Linked DNA regions of Homo sapiens. The protein of the gene in region 1 interacts with the protein of each later gene in a pairwise test. Each region holds a gene or a part of one and is shown on either strand. Other genes may lie near its edges.

Region 1 (3,825 bases):
GACAGATGGCTGGATGGAGCTGAAACCTAGGAGTCTGCAGGATGGATGTGGTGGAGGCAAGGGGCCAAGGAACTGAGATTTGGCCAGAGGTTTAGGAGAGGAGGCCTGGAATCCAGCTGGGATGAGGAAGGAAATGAGGCCAAGAAGAGGGCCAATGAATTGGGAGAAATGGGGGCTGAAGAGACTGGAGGTCTTAGGAATCACAGGAGGAACAAGAGGTAAAGAATGTTGCAATTTTAGCCAGGCGCGGTGGCTCACGCCTGTAATCCCAGCACTTTGGGAGGCCGAGGCGGGCAGATCATGAGGTCAGGAGATCGAGACCATCCTGGCTAACACGGTGAAACCCCGTCTCTACTAAAAATACAAAAAAATTAGCCGGGCGTGGCGGTGGGCACCTGTAGTCCCAGCTACTAGGGAGGCTGAGGCAGGAGAATGGCGTGAACCCGGGAGGCAGAGCTTGCAGTGAGTGGAGATCGCGCCACTGCACTCCAGCCTGGGTGACAGAGCTAGACTCCGTCTCAAAAAAAAAAAAAAAAAAGGAATATTGCAATTTAACTTTTAGAGGTCGAGCAGCTTCAGAGAGTGACAATATTAAGGCTGTGGCCATGGATGCGGGCATCCAAAGCTCAATAGGGGGAGTTATGGAACTTGATCTCTCTACGTGCAATGCTTGTAGCTGTAAGGCCTTGGTATTGGATGGGTTGGCCAAGGGGCCATCTGCAGTTGTCTAGAAGTGGGGCAGGTCTTGAGGTAGGACAGAGCTGATGATGGATGTGTAACTCTGAGAGGCTGAGTGATTTCCCCAAGGTCACACCATCTGCAAATGCCTGGACCTCAGGCACCCTGACCTCCTGTTCTCATCTCAGCAAGGTGGGGACCCCCTGCCCTGTGATTTTCTGATTCCAACTCTATCTAGCTCTCAGCACTTCCACTCAGAGATGAGAACAGGACCAGAGACAAAATGTCCTTCCACTCTGAGCATCTTTTGTGGAGAACAATCTGTTTTCCAAATTATCCTTTTCATTATTTCCCTCCACTGAACTTAGAAAATACTCTTCAAAAGATAATGGTGTTATTGCTGAATCTGGGGAGGGAGGAGGACATTATAATGGCCCTTTGGTTATTTTTTTAATGCAAGTATTTTAAAGACCTATACTGAAATATTTACAGATGAAAGGCTGTGCTGTCTTGGATTTACTTCCAAAGTAAATAATCCAGGCCTCAGTGGGGATGGTGGAGAGGCATGCGTGGATGTTTAGAGCAAACAGGATGGGCTGAGAGTTGCTGATTGTTGAAGCTGGGTGATGAGCAAATGGGGGTGCATTCAGCGATTCTGTCTACTGTTGTGTGCACGATTTGAAATGTTCCATAACAAAAGCTGGCTGTCTGACGAGGTTGTCAGCAGAAAGCAGCAGCCATTGTGGGCTGCAGGCATTCATGTAAAATATTCAGAGAGAGAGAGGCCCCTGGGGGCTATGCTCCATCCTGGCCCCACATCCTGAGAAGGCCCTTGAGAGGCAGGAGCAGGTCTAGAGGAGGCTATGGGAAGGGACTCCTCTTTTTTTTTTTTTTTTTTAGACAGGGTCTCACTCTGTCACCCAGGCTGAAGTGCAGTGGCACAATCATGGCTCACTGCAACCTCTTCTTCCCGGGTTCAAGCAATTCTCCCACCTCAGCCTCCAGAGTAGCTGGGACTACAGGCACACACTACCATGCCTGGCTACGTTTTGTATTTTTTGTAGAGATAGGATTTCACTACGTTGCCCAGGCTAAGCTCAAACCCCTGGGCTTAAGTGATCCGCCTGTCTCGGCCTCCCAAAGTGCTGGGATTATAGGAGTGAACAACCGCACCCAGTCTGGGACTCCAAATTTTAACTCAATTCTCTCAGCTGAAACTGGGCTGCTCAGCTTGGAGAGGAAAAGCTCTGAGGGGGCCTCTGTTGTCACCCACAGAGTGGCCGTCCTAGGGGAGGGCCTGTTGTCATGAGTCTGTGGATACACATACCCCCCTGCTGGCTCTGTCCAGAGGCCTTTGGCCAAGCCTTTTCTCTGAGGCTCACCTGCCCTCTCCCAGACCCTAGCCACTCTCCCGTGTAAGGCTCAGGCCAGGGGGATGCAGTGTGACCCTGCCAGCCAAATGGGAGTCTGGCTGCTTTGGAAGTCAGAACAACCAGAGCCTGCTCCCCTCCACTGGCCTAAACCACCCTGTTCTCTACGTGTCTGTGATGAGGTCTAACTTGGCTCCAAAACCCCTCCAGGGAAAAGGCTGGGCTGAGGTCGCTCCCAACATGGCTCAGCACTAATCCTTCACATCTGGACAAAACTGTGCTTTGTGCACCCTGGAGCAACTGTCCGTGAGCTCATCGGGGCCTCCACAGAGTGCATCTGAGAGAGCAAGCTTGGAGCAGGGCCTGACATTGTACTGCCAGCATCCTCACCACAGCGCTGACTTGAACGCATCATGGTAGAAAACATGCTGGAGACCCCTTTTCTCAGCCTGGTTCAGCCACTAATGATTGTGGGATTGTGAGAAAGTTTCTTCTGCTCCCTGAGCCTCTGCTGCCTCTTACATAAAATGGGGTAGGGTAGGCCTGAGGCCCTGACTCCCCCGTGTAGCGCATCCTTAATTCTTCTGTCTTTTGGAGGCTGCAGAGAGGCCTCAAGAATTAGCTAGACGAGCTGGGCTCGGTGGTTCACACCTGTAATCCCAGAGCTTTAGGAGGCTGAGGCAAGAGGATCGCTTGAAGCCAGAAGTTTGAGGTCACTCTGGGCAACATAGTGAGACTCTGTCTCTACAAAAATAAATAAATAAATAAATAAATAAATAAATAAAATAAAAATTAAAAAAAAATTAGCCAGGATTGGTGGTATATACTTGTAGTCTCAGGTATTTGGAAAGCTGAGGCGGGAGAATCGCTTGAGCCCAGGAGTTTGAGACTACAGTCAGCTACGATTGCACCACTGCACTGCAGCCAGGGTGACAGTGAAAGACTGTGTCTTGTAAGAAAATAAATAAATGAATAAAAAATAGTAGACACGCACATGCACCACAGGGCTGTCAGTGGCTCAGACAAGGGGAGTGGAAAAGACTGAAGGATTATGATGATTAACCCTGAGCAGCCAAGGCTGTGGCTCCTCAGGGCTCCCTTCCTTCCTTTCCTCCCGCTCTCCCAGGCCCTGCCAGTTGGGAAATGGACCTCCTTGGATGCTGCGTTGTTTTCTCTGGCCCGGCTCCTGCTAGGGGCCTGATGTGCACCCTGGATGGTGGCCATGGGTGGGGCATCCTGTGCTGGTGAGAACACGCTGCTGTGGAGCCCGGAGGCCCCAGAGGAGGGCTCGGCTGGGCTGGCTGCCCCAGTTAAAGAGACGTGGCCCCTGGGTCCCATCCTCTGAGGCGGAAGTACGGGTGCTTCTACTTACAGGCCTTATGGGGAGACCTTTTGTATCTGGACCCAAACAGTAAGAAAGGGCCACAACACAGATGATTTCTGCATGCTGGGGGTTGAGAAATGTTTTCTCAGTGGCATCTGAAAGGTGCCGCTGTATCTTCTGAATTGTCAAAGTCACACTCTGCTTTGAAAAGCAACCCTGGCCACTTGGGGGTTAATTATATTTGACCACATTCAACATAATAGAATAATAAATTTACCACATCCAATATTTGTATTAAAATGTATGATTCACTCAAAACCATCCACGGGTTTTGATCATTTTTGAAAGCAGCAGAAAACTATTCTTCAAGTGATTTTATAAAAAACTCCAAAATATGGGCCGGGCGTGGTGGCTCATGGTCTAAAAAGCCATCAGGGATAAAGGTTTCTCTGA
Region 2 (3,825 bases), on another chromosome or scaffold:
TTGCTGTGGTGTGAGAGCAGAAGAAAAACAGTTTGCTTTTAACATAATGTCCCAGACCTTTCTATTAGGCAGGGCCATGTGCCTTGTTTCAGCCTATAAAATATAAGTGGTAGCGAAACGATCACTTCTGGGTTGAGCCATGTAAGACTCCCCCATTACCACATCCACATTCTCTTTTTCCTAGACAACACATACTGAGACAGTGGCTTCATAAAATGGAGGCAGTCTGGATCCTGAGTCACATGATGAAAGAGCCACCAATGATCCATGTTAGTCTTGGCATGAGGGAGAAAGAAACTTGCTGTGCTATGCAAATGAGATTTAGAAGTTCGTTTCTGCAGCATAACTTAGACTAGTCTGATAAATATACAGAGGTACTTCATTTTTCTGCCTACACACTACCAAGTGACAACAGGGGTAAAATAAGTGGGAGAAAATACATACAAGTGGGCAGAAGGAAGAGTTAGAGAATGCTGGAAATCTCTGAAAAATGAGGAAGAAAAGTAGAAATACAGTAAGACAGCAAATAAATTTTACTTATGAAGTCCTAGGTATGTCATTTGCACCTTTGTTCTGGCCAGGAGACATCTTTGCATACAGACAAAAATATTCAAAGAGCAATTCTTACCTTCGTAACTGAGCATTCTCACTTCTTAATGGTTGCATGGCCAGTGCTATCTCAACTTGAATATCTGTGTTTCCACTTACTGTTGGAAGTACAGATATACATGCCTCCATTTCTGTAATCAACCTCTGAATTTCTGAATCCTCTATAGAAGGCAACAGAAATGAGTAAAATCAATATTATATTTTTGGACAAGATTATTAGTATGTATTACTAAAAAAGAAAATCTTTATAGATATGTACATTCTTGTTATAAATTCAACTCAATTATTTATAAATTTATTATACAGGTTCCATTTTTCTCTTTCATGCTGCTGGTATTTGTTTCCTCAGAATTCTAAAGAAATTAAGTTCAGTAAACTAAAGATTAATCTTAAATCACAGGATTATTACATAAGTGATTTTTTTTTTTTCAGTTCAAGAGTCAAGTAGGAATGTGGCTTACACAAAACTCTTAGTCCATAGTTACAAAGGACCACAGTGGACTCCTATGATTGCTATAGGGTTTCCTATAACTGGTTATAGTATTAACATTTATAATACAACCTTTGATCCTGGCATAAGCAAACAATTTACTTTAGGGGGTTAATATGGCAAAATATTGAGTGAGGGTCTGCTAAGATAGTTTCATTACTTAATTTTCTAAAGTAGATTGAACACAAGCAGCCACATCTCATTTGATGTGACATCAAAAGTTTGTTAATAATTGTGGACAGTAGATGTTTTTGGAGATTGCAAACAGACACAGGCATAGAAGGTAGATATTAATTCTTTTGCCTTTTATCTTTGTCCCCTCATTCCCATTCATATTTACTACGGGCTGAAAGTACTTAAAATTATTTATTAATCATCTGATAACCTAGAAGTTGAAAGTGTATTCTAAGTTACAAAAATGTATTCAGTTTCACAGATATTTTAACATCCTCATGAAAAGTATATGTACACAGTAAACAACTGTGTTCAATGATCAAGCAGTCTTCTACCAATCTTTATTTATTTATTTATTTTGAGACGGAGTCTCAGTTTCCTCATCAGTAAAATGGGAGTGGTAACAGTACCACATAGGGCTGCTGGGAGGATTAAATGAGATAATGCATATAAAACACTTAGCACTGTGCTGGACACATGGTAAGTGTTCAATAAATGACAGCTAATGGTATTATTATTATTACCATGATTATGTATCTGACTGTGAAAATGGTAATAAGTTGAAGGTCTGAAAACAGAGCAATTTTAATATACTAAATCTTTGGTCTAATGGTGCTACATTTATATAGCATTTTAAGATTTTTTTTTTTTTTGGTCTGCAAACGTTAGGTATTCAATCAATGCTTCCAAAATCAATTACTGTGTTTCCAAGATGACAAAACTGTAACTCATTTCAAGCAAAAGCCATTACTATAGAATACATATACAGAATGGAAACAAATGAATAGAATCTGGCTCAGAAACACCTTGATTTAAGAAAAAAAGTCCTAAAAATACACTGAAAAGGGCATAAGAAGGTATGCGTTACTTCTCAAAGTGAGATTTGTTAAACAATCTAACAGTTGGCTATTAAAGAAGTGACAGGAAAGAATTCTCTGCATCTTTTTAAAACAGGAAGAATAATCAGTCTACTCAGGGAGTTAATCATTTATAGGCATTCTCTAATTAAAATTTTTATCTGTCCAAATTCTCTTTGGTTGACTCTTTTCAAGGTCTATTATCAAGCAGAATAAATACACACTTGCAAGCAAAAGACTGAATGTTTGACATTCTCAAACGCATTTTAAATCCACAGGAAAGAAGGGATCAAAACTTAAAAAATAATACAATAAGTAGAACTCATTTTCTTATTAGCTCAAAACACAGTTCTATGGAAAATACCACAAACTCCATTTAAATGATAGCTAAATAACATGACATTGCTATTTAGTATAACACCATACTACAGAAAGTTATAAGTCCCATCTACCTTGTTCTGCTACCAGGGCCTTGAGCTCTCCCAACAAATATTTTATAATTCTAACTTTTTCAGCTGTCTTGTTCACATTTTTTGCCTTCTGTACATCCTTCACTGTTTTTGTATCTCGCACATGTATGTTTAAATCCTTTCTTTCACTTGTGGCCTCTCTAATTTGCTCTCTGGCACATTTTTCTTCATTAGTGGCCAAGAAAGCTGGTTGTGACTGAGTAGGGCTTCGGTGTGTCTGACTGTCCAGATGCGTTTCTTTTCCATGAGATCGAAAAAGAGACAAATATGTTTGAATACATTTTAGTAGGTCTGTTTCCTTATGAATTCCTTGTTGTGGCAGAATTCCATTAACAAGGCCCAGTTGCTGCAATGTTGGAATAGCTGATATGTCAGTTTTGGGCAGGCTACATGGAACTCCAGGACTGGTATTAAATGAATTCCGTAGAACATCAGTACAGGTTGCAGAAACTGTTTTACCTTGTGATGCAAACTGACTGTTGCCATCAGTTTGAACTTCCTAAAGAAAGATAAAAACAAGTCTTCAGAAGTATGAGCACTCATTTGTAGGTATTAATTACAACAAACTCAAATATATGAAATATATTTATTAAAACATGTTTATTAATATATTCATTTTGTGAATATTTAATAAGTAGTTACCACTATATTTTGAGGATATACTATAGTCTGTGTAACTACTCCCATACAGTTAGACATTTAAGTAACAGCCAGTTTTTCACTGCTGAAACATTTCTGTAAATATGTTTGTGCAAAAACTTTTTGTATGTTTAAACTTATTTTCTTATGATGTAATTTCCCAAAGTGGACTAATTTTTGATGCTTTTAAACCATCTGTGGTATTTGTAAACAGTCTATTTTAGTCATGGCCTTGTAATGCTCCCATATTACAGGGTAAATTAAGCTTTAAAAAACAAGAATCTTTATTGCACTGAGGAAAAAAATCCAACTTACTTTTAAGCTAAAAATATTAGTAAGTTTCTGATATTAAAAACTTGCTTATTAATAATAATATTAATTATAAGAAACTCAAATATATGGTTACTACTCCTAACCATATAGTAGTTACACAGACTATGGTATATCCAAAAAATACAGTATTAACAAGTTATTAAAAATTCAAAGGGTATATATTAATAAACATGTTTTTAATAAAGTATTAAGTGAAAGCAGCAGTATATAAGACTGTATTGTTGACTTATAACTTTATTTTAAAAGGAAAGCA

What was found.
Region 2: the proteins of PLAC9 (region 1) and CCDC14 interact in a two-hybrid assay, tested with the Homo sapiens proteins (one large-scale study listed by BioGRID and IntAct).

The regions. Positions count from the first base shown.
Region 1 is NC_000010.11:80,135,665-80,139,489, reverse strand, and holds part of PLAC9 (placenta-specific protein 9 isoform 1 precursor), read right to left. Parts: intron 1-3,825.
Region 2 is NC_000003.12:123,944,221-123,948,045, forward strand, and holds part of CCDC14 (coiled-coil domain-containing protein 14), read right to left. Parts: intron 3,100-3,825; coding exon 2,583-3,099; intron 771-2,582; coding exon 629-770; intron 1-628. UniProt on the Homo sapiens protein: Negatively regulates centriole duplication. Negatively regulates CEP63 and CDK2 centrosomal localization.